Linked DNA regions of Homo sapiens. The protein of the gene in region 2 purifies or fractionates together with the protein of the main gene of each other region. This does not show direct contact. Each region holds a gene or a part of one and is shown on either strand. Other genes may lie near its edges.

Region 1 (3,500 bases), on a different chromosome or scaffold from region 2:
AATGATCTAAACCAGGACAAGTACTACACCTAGACATTTACATATACAGTACTAGTAACTAATTTACAGGCTTCATTCAAATTTTGCCATTTGTCCTACTAATGTCCCTTTTCAGGTCTTGAATCCAGCCCAGGATCCCACGTAGCATTTACTTGTCATGTCTCATTAGGACCTGGGACAGTTTCTCCAGTTCTTATCTTTCAAAACTTTGATACTTTTCTGAAGAGTATTGGCCAGTTTTGCTGTAGAGTGTGTAGAACGCCCCTCAGCTTGAGTTTGGCATTTTCTCATAACTAAATTGCAGTCATGAATGCCACACAAGTGATGCTTTGCCCTTCTCATTGCATCATATGAGGAGGTAGGTGGAGTCGCCATGTCTTATTACTGGTGATGTTAACTTTGATCACTTGGTTAAGGTGGTAGCTGCCAGCTTTTCTACTATAGAGTTATTATTGGATAACACTTTTAAAGATTCATTCATGCTGTTGAAGGTATTAGTAGTTTGTTCTTATTGCTGAAGAGTCTTCATGGTATGGATAAACCACAATTTGTTTACCCATTTATAAATTGATGGACATTTGGTTTGCTTCTAGTCTTGAGCCTGGCACTATCTGATAGGCCTTGGTGTTCTATTGAACATAAACCACGTCACAGAGCACCGATATCAGACAGGGCCACTCTGTGACCACAATGGGTCAGGACAAGAACAAGGCCACTCAGTAATCACGTCTGAACTGGGACCGAAACAGGAACATTGTTGAAGCCACAAAGATGACCAAACATCCTCCCATGCCGCTAACATGAGGGACTCCTGCTTGGCCACTCACAGCTCTAGCCTCTCTTCATTCCTTCCACCTTTTAGATAAGATCCATTAACAGCATCAAATCCAGAACAAAGCCCCACTTCCATGAACCTCTCCCCAACATGATCTAACACAAGCACAAATCCTCTAATCAGTCCATTCCAGGTTCCTAACAGATGCTGCAGTTCTTCATGGCGTGTTCTATCTCTCGCAACTTGCTCGAGTACAAGTGTGTTCCTTGGACTGGAAGGCATTGATAATCCAAACAATATATAAACACATATGGAAAATCCTTGCTCAGCTCTAATCTCCTTACATAGCGTTTCCCACCCTATACTCAATTCTTTTTACTAATTTCTTGTGAATTCTTTTTTTGTTTTTATAGCAAATGCAAGAAAGTTAAGGTATATTCTTTTATCCCCTTGCCTTTCTCTTACAAAATACAATTGTGGTAAAACACATGTAACAAAATTTAGCATTCTAACCATTATTAAGGGTACAGTTCAGTCTATTCGCATTGTTGTGTAGCTAATCCCCTGAACTCATTTCATCTTGTAAAACTGAAGCTCTATACTCATTATTTTTAAGTAAAATATGTGTCTAATAAAATTAACCCTTTGTTAGTATTGAGTTTTATGAGTTTTGACAGATACAGTCATGTAACTACTACCACAATCGAGATATATAACAATACCATTGCCTCCCACCAAAAAAAAAAAAAAAAAAAATTCCCGCATGCCCCTTTTTAATCACTCCTCCCCTTTCTGGCAACCACCGTTATATTTTCTGCCCCCACAGTTTTGTTGGACAATCAGTGTCATTGTTCCAAATGTTGTCTTTCTCTGTGTTTGTTTTCTTTTTATAAAATTCCTCAGGTATAGACAAAGATTTACTGAATGTGCCTTAAGATCCACGAGTTTCTGTGACACGATGTTATCTTAATACTATTGTCACAGTACACTTCTTTCCTTCAGAATTTAGTTCTCAGTTAGAAATTACATTCTCACAGAAACTACTTTGGGCTGGGCATGGTGGCTCATGCTTGTAATCCCAGCACTTCGGGAGGCCTAGGTGGGTGGATGGCTTGAGCTCAGGAGATCAAGACCAGCCTGGCCAACATGGTGAAACCCTGTCTCTACCAAAAATACAAAAATTAGCCGGGCATGGTGGCGCGTGCCTGTAGTCCCAGCTACTGGGGAGGATGGGGTGGGAGGATCGCTGGAGCCCAGGAAGTCAAGGCTGTAGTGGGCCGTGATCACGCCACTGCACTCCAGCCTGGGTGACAGAGTGAGACCCTGTCTGAAATAAAAGAAAGAAACTGTACTTTGACCGCAAGTTGAGAGACTAGTGGTGGTTTTCATACCTTCTTTTTTTTCTTCTTTGTTCTTTTTTTTTTTTTTTTTTTTTTGAGATGGAGTTTTCCTCTTGTTGCCCACGCTGGAGTGCAATGGTACAATCTCGGCTCACTGCAACCTCTGCCTCCGGGGTTCAAGTAGTTCTCCTGCCTCAGTTTCCTGAGTAGCTGGGATTACAGGCATGCACCACCACTCCCAGCTAATTTTTTGTATTTAGTAGAGACAGGGTTTCACCATGTTGGTCAGGCTGGTCTCAAACTCCTGACCTCAGGTGATCCACCCATCTCGGCCTCCCAAAGTGGTGGGATTATAGGCGTGAGCCACTGCACCTGGCTTCATACCTTTTGAAAAGCAGCAAGTTTTCAAATGAATTCTCATATTTAACCCTTTCTTGTGCATTTTAGTGGTCCTCAAACTTGAGTAGTTACTAGAATCACCTGGAAATAGATGATGGGGTCCACCCCCAGAGTTTCTGATTCAGCAGCTCTGAGGTGGAACCAGAGGCTGCATTTCTAACAAGATTTCAGGTGATGGCGACGCTGCTGGTCTAGGGAACACGCTTTGAGAAGCACTGCTCCAAGGCACCTCTGCACCTCTAGGAGCACTTGAGAACACAAACGGAAAACAGCCAGTTCAGAGGATGATCTGTTACTAAAGATTTTTTAAAGGACATTCGTGTATGTGTGCGTGTGGGTATAATATAATATACATGATGCGTTTCTGTAATATATAAAATATAAATATTTATACATATTTCCATATATAAAAATATTTGCTGATTGTTTCTACACTATTTGTTTTTGTGATTTTTCTAAAGCCCGCCTCAAGCATTAGAACTACAGACAAACCCTGATGCGACCTCTCCAGATTGTCCCAAGTCGATTGATTTCCCAGCTATATTGTGGCCTGAAGCCTCCAGCGTCCACACGAAACCAGATTTGCCTGAAAATGGCTCGGCCAAGTTCAAGTAAGTCATTTTACCCATTGCCTCACCTGCAGCCAAATGTGAAGTACCTGAAAGTCCTACACTTCGAGAGGAATGTCTCTGTCAAATTAGGTATTGGGCAAGGTTTTGGAGAAAGCCACTCTGTCATCTTCTCTTTTTTTTTTTGAGACGGAGTCTTGCTCTGTCGCCAGGCTGGAGTGCGGTGGTGCGACCTCGGCTCACCGCAACCTCCGCCTCCTGGGTTCAAGCAGTTCTCTTGCCTCAGCCTCCCGAGGAGCTGGGACTGCAGGCACATGCCACCACAACCAGCTAATTTTTGTATTTTTAATAGAGATGGGGTTTCGCCATGTTGGCCAGGATGGTCTCGATCTCTTGATCTCGTAATTTGCCTGCCTC
Region 2 (3,927 bases):
ACAAAGTTTAATTGAGCAAAGAACAATCTGTGAATTGGGCAGCTCCCAAAAGCAGAATAGGTTCAGAGTGACTGCAGGGTTGCCACACCTGGTTAGATAACGTTTATGGACAGATTCCTAGAGCTTTTGATTCTTTTTTTTTTTTTTTTGAGGCAGAGTTTCACTCTTATTGCCCAGGCTGGAGTGCAATGGCGTGATCTTGGCTCACTGCAACCTCCACCTCCTGGGTTAAAGTGATTCTCCTGCCTCAGCCTCCTGAGTAGCTGGGATTACAGGTATACACCACCAAACCCAGCTGGGATTACAGGCATGCACCACCATGCCCAGCTAATTTTTGTATTTTTAGTAAAGACAGGGCTTCGCCATGTTGGCCAGGCTGGTCTCGAACTCCTGACCTCAGGTGATCCACCTGCCTCAGCCTCCCCAAGTGCTGGGATTACACGTGTGAGCCACTGTGCCAGGCTGGAGCTTTTGATTCTTAAGTCCATCCACATGGAGCCTCCAGCAACTCAGGAATTACAGCATAAATGTTCCTATTGGTACTGGCTCCAGCAACAGGCTTCTGCTCCCTGTAAGCTATGGTTCTTTGTATTTGCGTTTCTAATTTGTGAGGCATTCTCTCTTTAACCTTAATTCTCTAATGGATCTAAGTGTTGTTGACTTTTCAGTTTATTGAGCTTTTTTCTTATTGTGAGGATGGGAATGATGACTTCCAATCTCTTTATATTAGAAAATATAAATCAGACTAGAGACTGGAAATTTTTGTTGTTGTTGTTGGGTGTTTTGTTTTGTTTGTTTTTAGACAGGTCTTGCTCTCTCATCCAGGCTGGAGTTCAGCAATGCGACCGTGCTCACTGCAGCCTCGACTTTCTAGGCTCAGGTAATCCTCCCACTTCAGCCTCCTTAGTAGCTAGGACTGTAGGCATGCACCACCATGATGCCTGGCTAGTTTTTTTATTTTGTATTTTTTGTAGACATGGAGTCTTGCTACATTGGCCAGGCTGGGTATTACTGGGTATTTCTTTCTTTCCTCCTTTATTTCTTTCCATATTTACTTATTCAATGAATATTTGAGTGCTTATTATATACCAGGCACTGTTCTAGGCACTGGGGATATGGGGATACAGCAATGAAAAAAAAAGATAAATACTTTGTCCTTATGAAATTTGTATTCTAGAGTAGGGAGACATAATGAACAAATGAAAACAGGCATCAGATGGTGATAGGTAGTAAGGAGAAAAAGAAGTAAGGGTAATAGGGAATACTGGGTACTGGATGGGGTACAGATATTTTAAACAGAGTGGTGAGAAATAGTTAATACAGCTAGCAACATAAAAAAGGAGAAATATCAAACTGCAAACTGTTTTAGGAAGATAAATCCTTCATAGACCCAAAGAAGCTCACAATTTAGATGTCGAAACTAGTTTCTGCAAAAAGGGGAAAATGTGATTGACTTGGTTAAATATTCAGTATTAAATTTTATTGAATTTGTCTTTAGAAAAATTTCATAGTTAGAACAGGCCTTACCCATTTTGCACATATATACATATGCACCACCTTTGCAGTGGCAACATATATATCCACACTATAAACATACCACATTTATAAATCTTGTAAGGACAAGAAATGGAGTTGAATAAGTACCCCCCAACATATACAAGAAAGTTAGCATACTTACCCCGTTTTTCACTACATCAGAGGCAAAATAAGAAATCTTTTAAGAAAATCTCAAGACTGGCTCATGGCAAAATGAATATGCTAAATTTGGGGGTTGGTTTAAGCGTGGTATGTGTCAGGTAATTTTGTGATTACCAAAAAGTTTTCACTTGAAAACTAAGACCTTTGCTGTTTATTTCACAATGTGAAATCAATAAACCTGAGGATACAAGTCTCTGTAGTGATATTCTGTATTTACTCATTTTTACACATTTTTGAATGCAATTTTGCTAAGGAAGGAAAGCTTACAGATGCATAAAATGTAACTGGGAAGAGTAGCCATAAAAATCAATGAATGGATGTGGCTGGGCAAGAGCCTCTGTAATACTAATACGCTGAATGGCTAATAAGTCACTTCATTTCGGTGAAACAAATACCTAAATTCTTTGAAGAATTAACAGGCTTGATGTTCAGGTCTGCTTTTGGCAAATGGGCATTTAAATACTCCAAGAAGGTAAGAGCCAGAAAATAGGAAGGTAACTATGCTTTTAGAAATATGTTTACTTAGATTCTCCCAAGGTTTATACTTACAGGTAAACTTAGAACAATAGCTCAAATACCTACATAGGAGAAGGAAATCTCAAGGGAAAACAGTTAATTTTAAAGTTATTTAAGAAACAGAATCCAACACCATAGATCAGAGTTCATGCTAGGATTATCATTTCAAAAATAATGACTCATCCAACAGATATAGAATAATAGCACTTTAAAGATGTTTAAGAGTAAAGCACAAACCATGTATATACCAAGACTTAGCTAATTCTCTGAGAGTTATAACTTAAGACAATAAAATAATTAAAAATAGTGTTAACATTAAGTAGAATGCAAATCTCTATAGATGGTTTCCTGGGAAAGTAGTTTTGATAAGCTTTCCTAGCATTGATCATCTTCAAAAAAGCATCAATAAACAGTCCATGTCACTTGCTTTAGTTTGTTTGGGCCTACTAATTGCTCCAACACTTCTCGGGAATGATCTATAAAAGAAAACAATGACAATATATTAATTGACAATAAAAAATGTTTAATGTTTCCTCATGTCTAACTGGAGGTGATGTTAATTATTATACAGTTATTTAAAGGATTAAAGGAGGTGATCTATAAAGCACAATATACAACTAACTCACTAATAATTAATTAATGGTAGCCCTCACTATTATTAGGTGTAGTGCACCTATCATGGTATTACTTGTTTAAAAAAAAAAAACAGGCATTTGTTGTTTTCTCTGTAATTTCATCATAATTCCACCAACCAGAGTAATGGTCTAATTTCACCATTAACCTGTGTTAATGGTTAATAACTTTTTTCAGGATCTTAGCCGGAAATAGATGATTCACTAAAGTGGGGTGACTGAACAGCATTTAATGAAGGGAATATTTACCAAAAAAGTAGGATTAAAGAAAGCCAATAGGTACGGTAAACCACCTTGGGAAGCTGCAACACACCCAAAGGGTTAAAGGAGGTAGTAGTCACCGAACGTGACAAGTTGACCTGTAGCTGAACATTTTTCCATGTCTGTATAATACTACTATAAAGCATGATTTTAAATAGATAACCATTATATAAATACACTGTAATTTAACCAATCTATATTATTGGACATTTAGATGTTTTCAGTTTTTCACAATGTACAGTCGTGATTTTGATATGGTTTCCATCCTAGTTTTAGGATGTCTTTTAAAAATCTGAATTAAAGCAAAAATACTGATAAAATTTTGTTAGTTTAAATATTACTCATAAGTTTAATAAACTTGTTTCCATAGATACAACCTATGTTTTATGTACAACATATCTCTAACCTAGTCTTGGAAATCCTGTAATTTGGTGGTTCCTAGACAGATTTCACAGACCAGTAGAAAAAAAAAAAAAGATGGGCCCAACATATACAGTGACAAAATTTTATTTTAAGTTTAACAAAATTAAGCAAAAATACCAAGGTTTATTGCCAGCAAGAGAACCAGAGAGTGTATAGAAATGAAAAGTTATTATCATTGGGAAAACAAAGGTTTACAATTTTTTAAAAAAGCAGCTAGTAAGATAAATGCAGTTTTATTCATGGTCATAAAAATATTATTGGTTATTGTAGAGGAAATCTCAATCAAAGATAGATTCAAATTATGTTGAAAGTAAAAGAATGGACAAAGACATACCATTTAAATGGCAACCATGACAAAGCTGGGTGGCTATAGAAGAAGGGGGAAACACTTTCCAAC
Region 3 (3,500 bases), on a different chromosome or scaffold from region 2:
CGGGGGCATGCTAGGGAGACCCCAGGGCCATGTGTGGCCTGAGATCATAGCTGGTCCACCAAGCCAGGCCAAAGGGCCAGGGCAGTCTGGGAGCCAGCCCTGTGACCACTCTGGGCCTCTCCCCAGGAGGTACAGCTAATACCAGGATCTCTCTTGGGGCCAGACACTGGAATCTCAGGTGAGGGAGGCCCCTTCTTCAGTTTAAACGCCACCTGCTCCCTGAGCCTCCCTCTTGCCTCCCCGCCCATCCATCTGTTCAACAAACATCCCCCGAGCACCTCAATGCTCAGGAACCAGAGTGCCTAGGACATAGCCCCTGTTCCCCAGAAAGCAAAGCGTCCAGCACGAGATGGCCAGGGAGAGGGGGAAGGAATGGAGACGGGGCTGGGAGCGCAGAGAAGGAGCTCCTTTGTCTTTGGGGGACCAGGGGAGGGCACAGGGGCAGACCTGAGAAAGGGGCACCTGACAGTGGGTTTCACTGAATGGGTGAGTCGAAGCTCACCAGGGCAGAAGAGCCTCCGCAGCAGGCTCTACAGGCAGGAGCCCCTCTCCAATGTACGCCGTGTTCTGGCTGCTCTCCCAATACGTGGCTGCATACACCCACCAAGACCCCGCCCCCAGGACCCCTGCCCTGTTGGCGCTGCTGCCAGCAGTTGGCAGGGGGCGGTTCCTGGGTGTGCGTTCCTGCTCCTCCACTACAACAGAAGCCCCCGGGTGGGAGGGAGCCATTTCCACTTTATTCCCTAATGTTCTTGGCCCTGAGCACTGTGCCCAACACATGGGGGTGCCGGGTTACTACCTGGGGAATGACAGACACCTTGTCACCGCACCTGACCTGCGGTTGGGGTACACCTTGCATTTCTGTCACTCCGCTGCCCTGAGGACGTCCCAGACCCTCGCTGCCAGTCCCCAGCAGGAGCTGTAGGGGCGTTACCTCGTGCAGCGGGTCTCTCCTCATGTTGCGCCCGGCCAGCGGCTCATCGTGGGGGAAGACGACGGAGTAGTTCTTGGCGTAGGACTCATGGCTTCGCTCTCGGATCCAGCGGGGGTGGTCCGTGAGCGAGTGATGGAAGCGCCTGCCGCAGACAGGGGGACGGGTCACTGCTTTGGGGATGGCCCGTCAGGGAAGGGCTAGCCTAGGACCCAGGGTAAGCCTGGACCCCGGTCCCCTGCACCAGAGTCCCCTTTGTGGCTCAGCATTGAGCGGGCCCCTGACTCTCCATTCGCCCCACCCTTGGGTGAACTCAGCTTTCTCCCCCAGAGCCACCCCACCCCAGTGGCCCTCAGTGAGTGGGCGTTGTGGACAGAGGGCCCAGCTGAGGCTCTCATCCCCCACAGGGACATGGGACTCCAGCCTCGCTCTCCACACATTGCTGTCTGCTGCCTAGGTTCCAGTGCTGGGGAGTCCTGGGGTGCCCCTACATGACTGGGGAGGGAGCGGCCCCTGGGAGGGATGGGCTCAGATCCCCAGAATGCTCTGGGGAGGGTCCATGTGAAGGGTCTTTGAAGTTTAGCCTGGTGATGCGTCAGAACACCAGTGTCCCCCTCCTCATCAAGGAACCCCCCTTTCCACCCGCCAGCAGGGGAGTGGGGGCAAGGGTGGCCGCCTGTCCCATCAGGCCTCCCCAAGTCTGTGATCCCAAAGCTGGGCCTCGTCTGTGGGTCAGACCAGGGACCCAAGAGGTACAGAGTCTCTGGGGGAAAATCCCAGCTGTGTCTGGGGAGCGGCTGCCCAATCCAGCGCCTGGGACCGGAGATGATGTGGCTGCAATAGTTTTGGGTTTGTTCCTTCGAGGCTGGGGACACAGTGTGCGGCCACGGCAGCCCCCGGTGGTGTCCAGCACGAACCCGGCGGGCCCCATGCTATTTCTCATGGAGCTACGGAGCTCTGTGGCTGCACCTGCGGCCTAGGCCTCTGCTGCCCCTGAGTGGGCAGAGCAATCAGTGCCCCGCGGCTTGTTCCCTGGTCTCCTCAGACCAGCCACCCGTCCCGAATCCGACAGTGCGGAACTGCTGGCTGGAGTGAGACCCGGGCCCAGCTGCATCAGGGCCCTGCAGCCGCCTCCCACGCACAAACCTCCCTGTCAGCCCCCGGCTTTCCCAGCACCCCGCCTCCCCCTCACGCTCCACCTGCTAGAACCTCACTCATCACTCAAGGCTGCCTCAGCAGCCACATCAGAGGCGTTTCTATCCTCAGTGACACCTGTCAGGGCTGATTCTTAGTCTGCACGTAATTCTAGCAAGCAGAATTTTCTGATCTGGATGGGTGGGGAGTAGAGGTGCAGACGTGAGGATTATTATTAATGATATTATCATTAACAGCTGCTGTCGCTTATGGCACCCAGCTCCAGTGCAGGCTCAGAGCTGAGTGCTGCTGTGGGAGGAAATCCCTCTCTCTTTGTCCCCAGAGCTGCCTTCTGCATGGGACCCAAGATTAACTCTTTCACGCAGGGGGAAACTGAGGCTCGGAAGGGTCTCACAAGTGTTCACAGTCACACGGCAAGGCCACGGCAAAGGCAGCCCACACCTGCGCCAGGCTATGCTGACCAGGAGCTGAAGGAGGGGGTGATGGAGCCAGTGAAGGTCTGGGAGGATTCTTGGGGGCAGCAGTGAGGTGCACGTCGGGTGGCAGGAGCAGCGAGTGACCTACAGAGTCCCAGCTGCCAATTCGGCCTGTGAGCAAGTGGGCAGAGGGACCAGGCCGGCCCAGACCACCCTTTTCACTTAAATAAAGAGCAACTCTTCCCTGGCTCACCTGGTCCCCAAGGAATTTCCCTGAAAAAACAGCCCAGCCCACACTCTGGCTCTGCCTCTGTTGGGTACTGGGCCAAGCGTCCACACGCATGAGCCTCGAGTGCGCTCCAAGAGGGTGGTACATTGTTCCCATTTTCCAGGTGGCGAAACTGAGGCTCAGAGAACAGGAGCGACTGACCAAGGGCCATGCAGCTGACAGATATGGGGCTGGAGAGACAGCCTCTTATCTGATTTCAAAAGGAACTCACGCGCAGGGCGGCTGCCATGGCCTGGAAGCCCCCTGGTGCCCGGTCAGCCCTGGGACCCTCACGCGCAGCCCGGAGCCCAGACAGGCCCCGCACCCAGGGACGGCTCAGGCTGCCTGGTCTCCCGGGACGCCCCCTCGCTGTGCGTGTCTCCCATGTGTATGATGAAGGACGACCCACGCGTGTTCTGGCTCTGGCCTGAGGGGAGCAACCAGGAGTCTCTGAGCAGGGGAGAGCTCCGTTCTGGCGCCGACGCTCTCTGTTCACTTTCTTTTCTGGGTCTTTCAACGACTTTCTCAGGCACCTCCTTCCTCTCCTCGCTCTGTCTCTCTCCTTCAGGGTCTGTGTCTTGTCTCAGTCCCCGGGCGCAGGCCCGAGGTGGCAGAACATTGCATTAGTGCTACAGCCCTTGGGGGCCGGTGGCTGGTCCTGCTGGTGGCGGCCGTCCACTCTGGCACACTGAAGGGGTTTGGAAGCCCCACGTCAGTGACGGCTGGGCTG
Region 4 (3,500 bases), on a different chromosome or scaffold from region 2:
CCACCTCCCGGGTTCAAGCGATTGTCATGCCTCAGCCTCCTGAGTACCTGGAATTACAGGCGCATGCCACTGCACCTGACTAATTTCGTATTTTTAGTAGAGACAGAGTTTCACCACGTTGGCCAGGCTGGCCTCAAACTCCTGACCTCAAGTGATCCACCTGCCTCGGCCCGCCAAAGTGCTGGGATTACAGATGTGAGCCACAGCACTTGGCCCAAGTTATGTCTTGTATAGATATCCTACAAATGTTATCAGATTTAGGTACTTTCCTTTTTTCACATAAAATTTCCTTGCCTTACAAACACCTGGCTGAGCACATGATGGCTCACGCCTGGAATCCCAGCACTTTGGGAGGCCGAGGTGGGTGGATCACTTGAGGTCAGGAGTTCGAGACCAGCCTGGCCAACATGGTGCAACCCCGTCTCTACTAAAAATACAAAAATTAGCCGGGCGCGGTGGCACACATGCTGTAGTACCAGCTACTCGGGAGGCTGAGGCAGGAGAATCACAAAACAAAACAAAACAAACACCCCCCTTGCCAGGCTGGGCATTGTGGTTCACAACTATAATCCTGGCACTGTGGGAGGCTGAGGTGGGAGGATTGCTTGAGCCCAGGAGTTCAAGACCAGCCTGGGCAACATGGTGAAACCCCATCTGTACAAAAAATACAAAAATTAGCCGGGCATGGTGGCATGTGCCTGTAGTCCTACCTAACCAAAAAGTTGAAGTGGGAGGATCGCCTGAACCCAGGAGGCAGAGGTTACAGTGAGCCGAAAACACGCTACTGTACTCCAGGCTGGGTGACAGAGTAGGACCCTACCTTAAAAAAAAAAAAAAAAAAAAACCACACCCACCTTGCAGCATAGCACTATTGTAGCTAACATGATGAATCTGATTCTCCTATAGGCAAACAAGGAGAAAAAGCATCTTACCATGACGAGCACCACCCCCAAGGCCAGACAGCTATTAACACAATGAAGGGTATATTTCAGTATATGAAAGTTCTTTCAGTTCTGAACAATGTTCATTTCTTAGACTGGATACTCCCACTGCCACAGCAAAAAGCCTAAAACCCTGCTTTCTAAACAGAATTTTAACGAGAAGTGCAAAAACGGACTGAAGGATAAATTGTTGTGTTCTGTACATTGCCGCATTGTGTTTTCCAGAATACTGAAAAACCCCTAACTGAAAGAATGTTTGCACAATGATTAACAAGGCTTTGTCTGACAGGAGGAAATAGGAATGGGAGATGATCATTTATGTATCCACCGTAACTGGACACAGGGCACTCAGGTGGTTTGTTTTGCATATCCATCTTCCCCCTCAGGAACCCTGCCCAAGAACAAACAGCTCAGCTTTTTGTCCACCGCTGTAGTCCCAGCTGCTGGAACAAATACTGGGAAATGCTTCATTATATCAGTTTGGTACATCAGATTTAGGTACTTCCCTTTTTTCACATAAAACTTCCTTGACTTATAAACACCTAGCTGAGCATGGTGGCTCATGACTGTAATTCCAGCACTTTGGGAGGCCAAGGCGGGTGGATCACTTGAGGTCAGGAGTTCGAGACCAGCCTGGCCAACATGGTGAAACCCCATTTCCACTAAAAATACAAAAATTAGCCAGGTGTGGTGGCACACACGCTGTAGTACCAGCTACTCAGGAGGCTGAGGCAGGAGAATCTTATTACGGGATCGTCCCGATTTTCATATGAATGCTGTCATTTCTTCAGTCTTACACAAACACTGTCTACCATGCTATCATTCTTTGGTCCTCCCTACTTTTCTGCTCTCCTTCATTCCAAGCCTAAAAAGAGCTCTCCACTCACTGTTACCACTTCCTCACCTCTCAGCCTCTCTTAGTCCCACTCAGTAAGGTTTTGTTCCTATCACACCACCTCATCAAGGTCACCAACAACCTGCATGTTGCCAACACCAATGCACACACATATCTGAGGTCTCATCTTACTTGACGTCTCAGCAGCATGACACAGTTGATCCTTCTCTCCTTGAAACACTCTTCACTGGGCTTTTGGGACCGTGATTTTTTTCCTATTTCTCTGGTTTCTTCTCAGTCTCTATTTGTGAATTCTCCTTTGCTTCCTAACTGTGGATTCTTGCCATGCCCAGGGTTCAGATCTCTTCTCTACCTATAAACTCTCCCCAGAGATGCTTATCCAGTCCCATGGCTTTAAAGAACCATCCACTGATGACTCCTTCATTGCTCCTCCAGGGGCCAGCTACCCAATGGCCCCATTTTGAGTCCTCTCAAACTGAGTCTGTAGAAGACAGGATTCCCGACCCTCTCTAACTCACCTTCAATCTGCTCCTGCCCGAGTTCTCTATCCATAGGAGAGACTAGCCAGATGTTTACCAAATGCACTTCCTCTTCTGGACACCTGTTAGACTAAATTTCCCAGCCTCCTGTGCAGCAAGGTGTGGCCATGAGACTAAGTGTGAACCAATGAAATCTGAGGATCATTCGGGCTTCCCAGGCATTCACCTCCAAGCTTACCCCCACCAGCCAGCTTGATGCAGACAAACATGCCGACTGTGGGAAGTATTAAAGATGGCAGGAAGGCCAGGCGTGGTGGCTCACACCTGTAATCCTAATACTTTGGGAGGCCAAGGTGGAGGAATTGCCTGAGCTCAGGAGTTTGAGACCAGCCTGGGCAACACGGTAAAACCCAGTAGCTACTAAAATCCAAAAAATTAGATGGGCGTGGTGGTGTGCCCCTGTAATCCCAGCTACTGGGGAGGCTGAGGCAGGAGAATTGCTTGAACCTGGGAGGCAGAGGTTGCAGTGAGCCGAGATCACGCCATTGCACTCCAGCCTGGGTAACAGAGCAAGACTCTATCTCCAAAAAAAAAAAAAAAAAAAAAAAAGACGGCAGGAGACTGGGTCCCTGAACATTGCTTGGAGAACAGCTGCCCTGCCAATCAGGAACACCCAATGCAGCTTTACAAGAGTGAGAAACTTCTACGGTGTTAAGCCACTGAGAATGCTGGAGTTTATCTGTTACAGTACCAACATTACTATAATTAACACAACAGGTCAAAAAAAGGTACCACCGTTCATCCAGCCACTCAGGTACAACCCCCTTTTTTTTTTTTTCCCAGAGATGGGGTCTCGCTTTGCTGCCCAGGCTCAAGTGCAGTGGCATGATCATAGCTCACCGCTGCCTCAAATTTCTGGGCTCAAGGCATCCTCTCACCTCAGCCTCCTGAGTAGCTAGGACTACAGGTGTGCACCAGCACACTTAGCTAATTTTTAAATATTTGTGGAGATAAATAAGGTCTTGCCATCTGGCCTAGGCTGGTCTCAAACTCCTGGATTCAAGTGATCCTCCCACCTCAGCCTCCCAAAGTTCTGGGATTACAGGCATGAGCCACTGCACCAGGCCAGGACTCGTTTTTGTTTTGTTTTGTTTTGTTTTTGAGATGCAGTCTCGCTCCGTCACCCAGGCTGGAGTTCAGTGGCGTGATCTCAACTCACTGCAA

The links.
Region 1: the proteins of ETFBKMT (region 2) and SIRT5 purify together in Homo sapiens (affinity purification with mass spectrometry; one large-scale study listed by BioGRID and IntAct). This does not show direct contact.
Region 3: the proteins of ETFBKMT (region 2) and SARDH purify together in Homo sapiens (affinity purification with mass spectrometry; one large-scale study listed by BioGRID and IntAct). This does not show direct contact.
Region 4: the proteins of ETFBKMT (region 2) and PISD purify together in Homo sapiens (affinity purification with mass spectrometry; one large-scale study listed by BioGRID and IntAct). This does not show direct contact.

Annotation. Positions count from the first base shown.
Region 1 is NC_000006.12:13,581,101-13,584,600, forward strand, and holds part of SIRT5 (NAD-dependent protein deacylase sirtuin-5, mitochondrial), read left to right. Parts: intron 1-2,975; 5' UTR 2,976-3,010; coding exon 3,011-3,125; intron 3,126-3,500. UniProt on the Homo sapiens protein: NAD-dependent lysine demalonylase, desuccinylase and deglutarylase that specifically removes malonyl, succinyl and glutaryl groups on target proteins.
Region 2 is NC_000012.12:31,669,688-31,673,614, forward strand, and holds the end of ETFBKMT (electron transfer flavoprotein beta subunit lysine methyltransferase), read left to right. Parts: 3' UTR 1-2,616; coding exon of another isoform or gene 2,617-2,690; 3' UTR 2,691-3,427; downstream 3,428-3,927. Other genes in the region: protein AMN1 homolog, read right to left, coding at 2,617-2,690. UniProt on the Homo sapiens protein: Protein-lysine methyltransferase that selectively trimethylates the flavoprotein ETFB in mitochondria. Thereby, may negatively regulate the function of ETFB in electron transfer from Acyl-CoA dehydrogenases to the main respiratory chain.
Region 3 is NC_000009.12:133,707,353-133,710,852, forward strand, and holds part of SARDH (sarcosine dehydrogenase, mitochondrial precursor), read right to left. Parts: intron 1,077-3,500; coding exon 935-1,076; intron 1-934. UniProt on the Homo sapiens protein: Catalyzes the last step of the oxidative degradation of choline to glycine. Converts sarcosine into glycine.
Region 4 is NC_000022.11:31,652,216-31,655,715, forward strand, and holds part of PISD (phosphatidylserine decarboxylase proenzyme, mitochondrial), read right to left. Parts: intron 1-3,500. UniProt on the Homo sapiens protein: Catalyzes the formation of phosphatidylethanolamine (PtdEtn) from phosphatidylserine (PtdSer). Plays a central role in phospholipid metabolism and in the interorganelle trafficking of phosphatidylserine.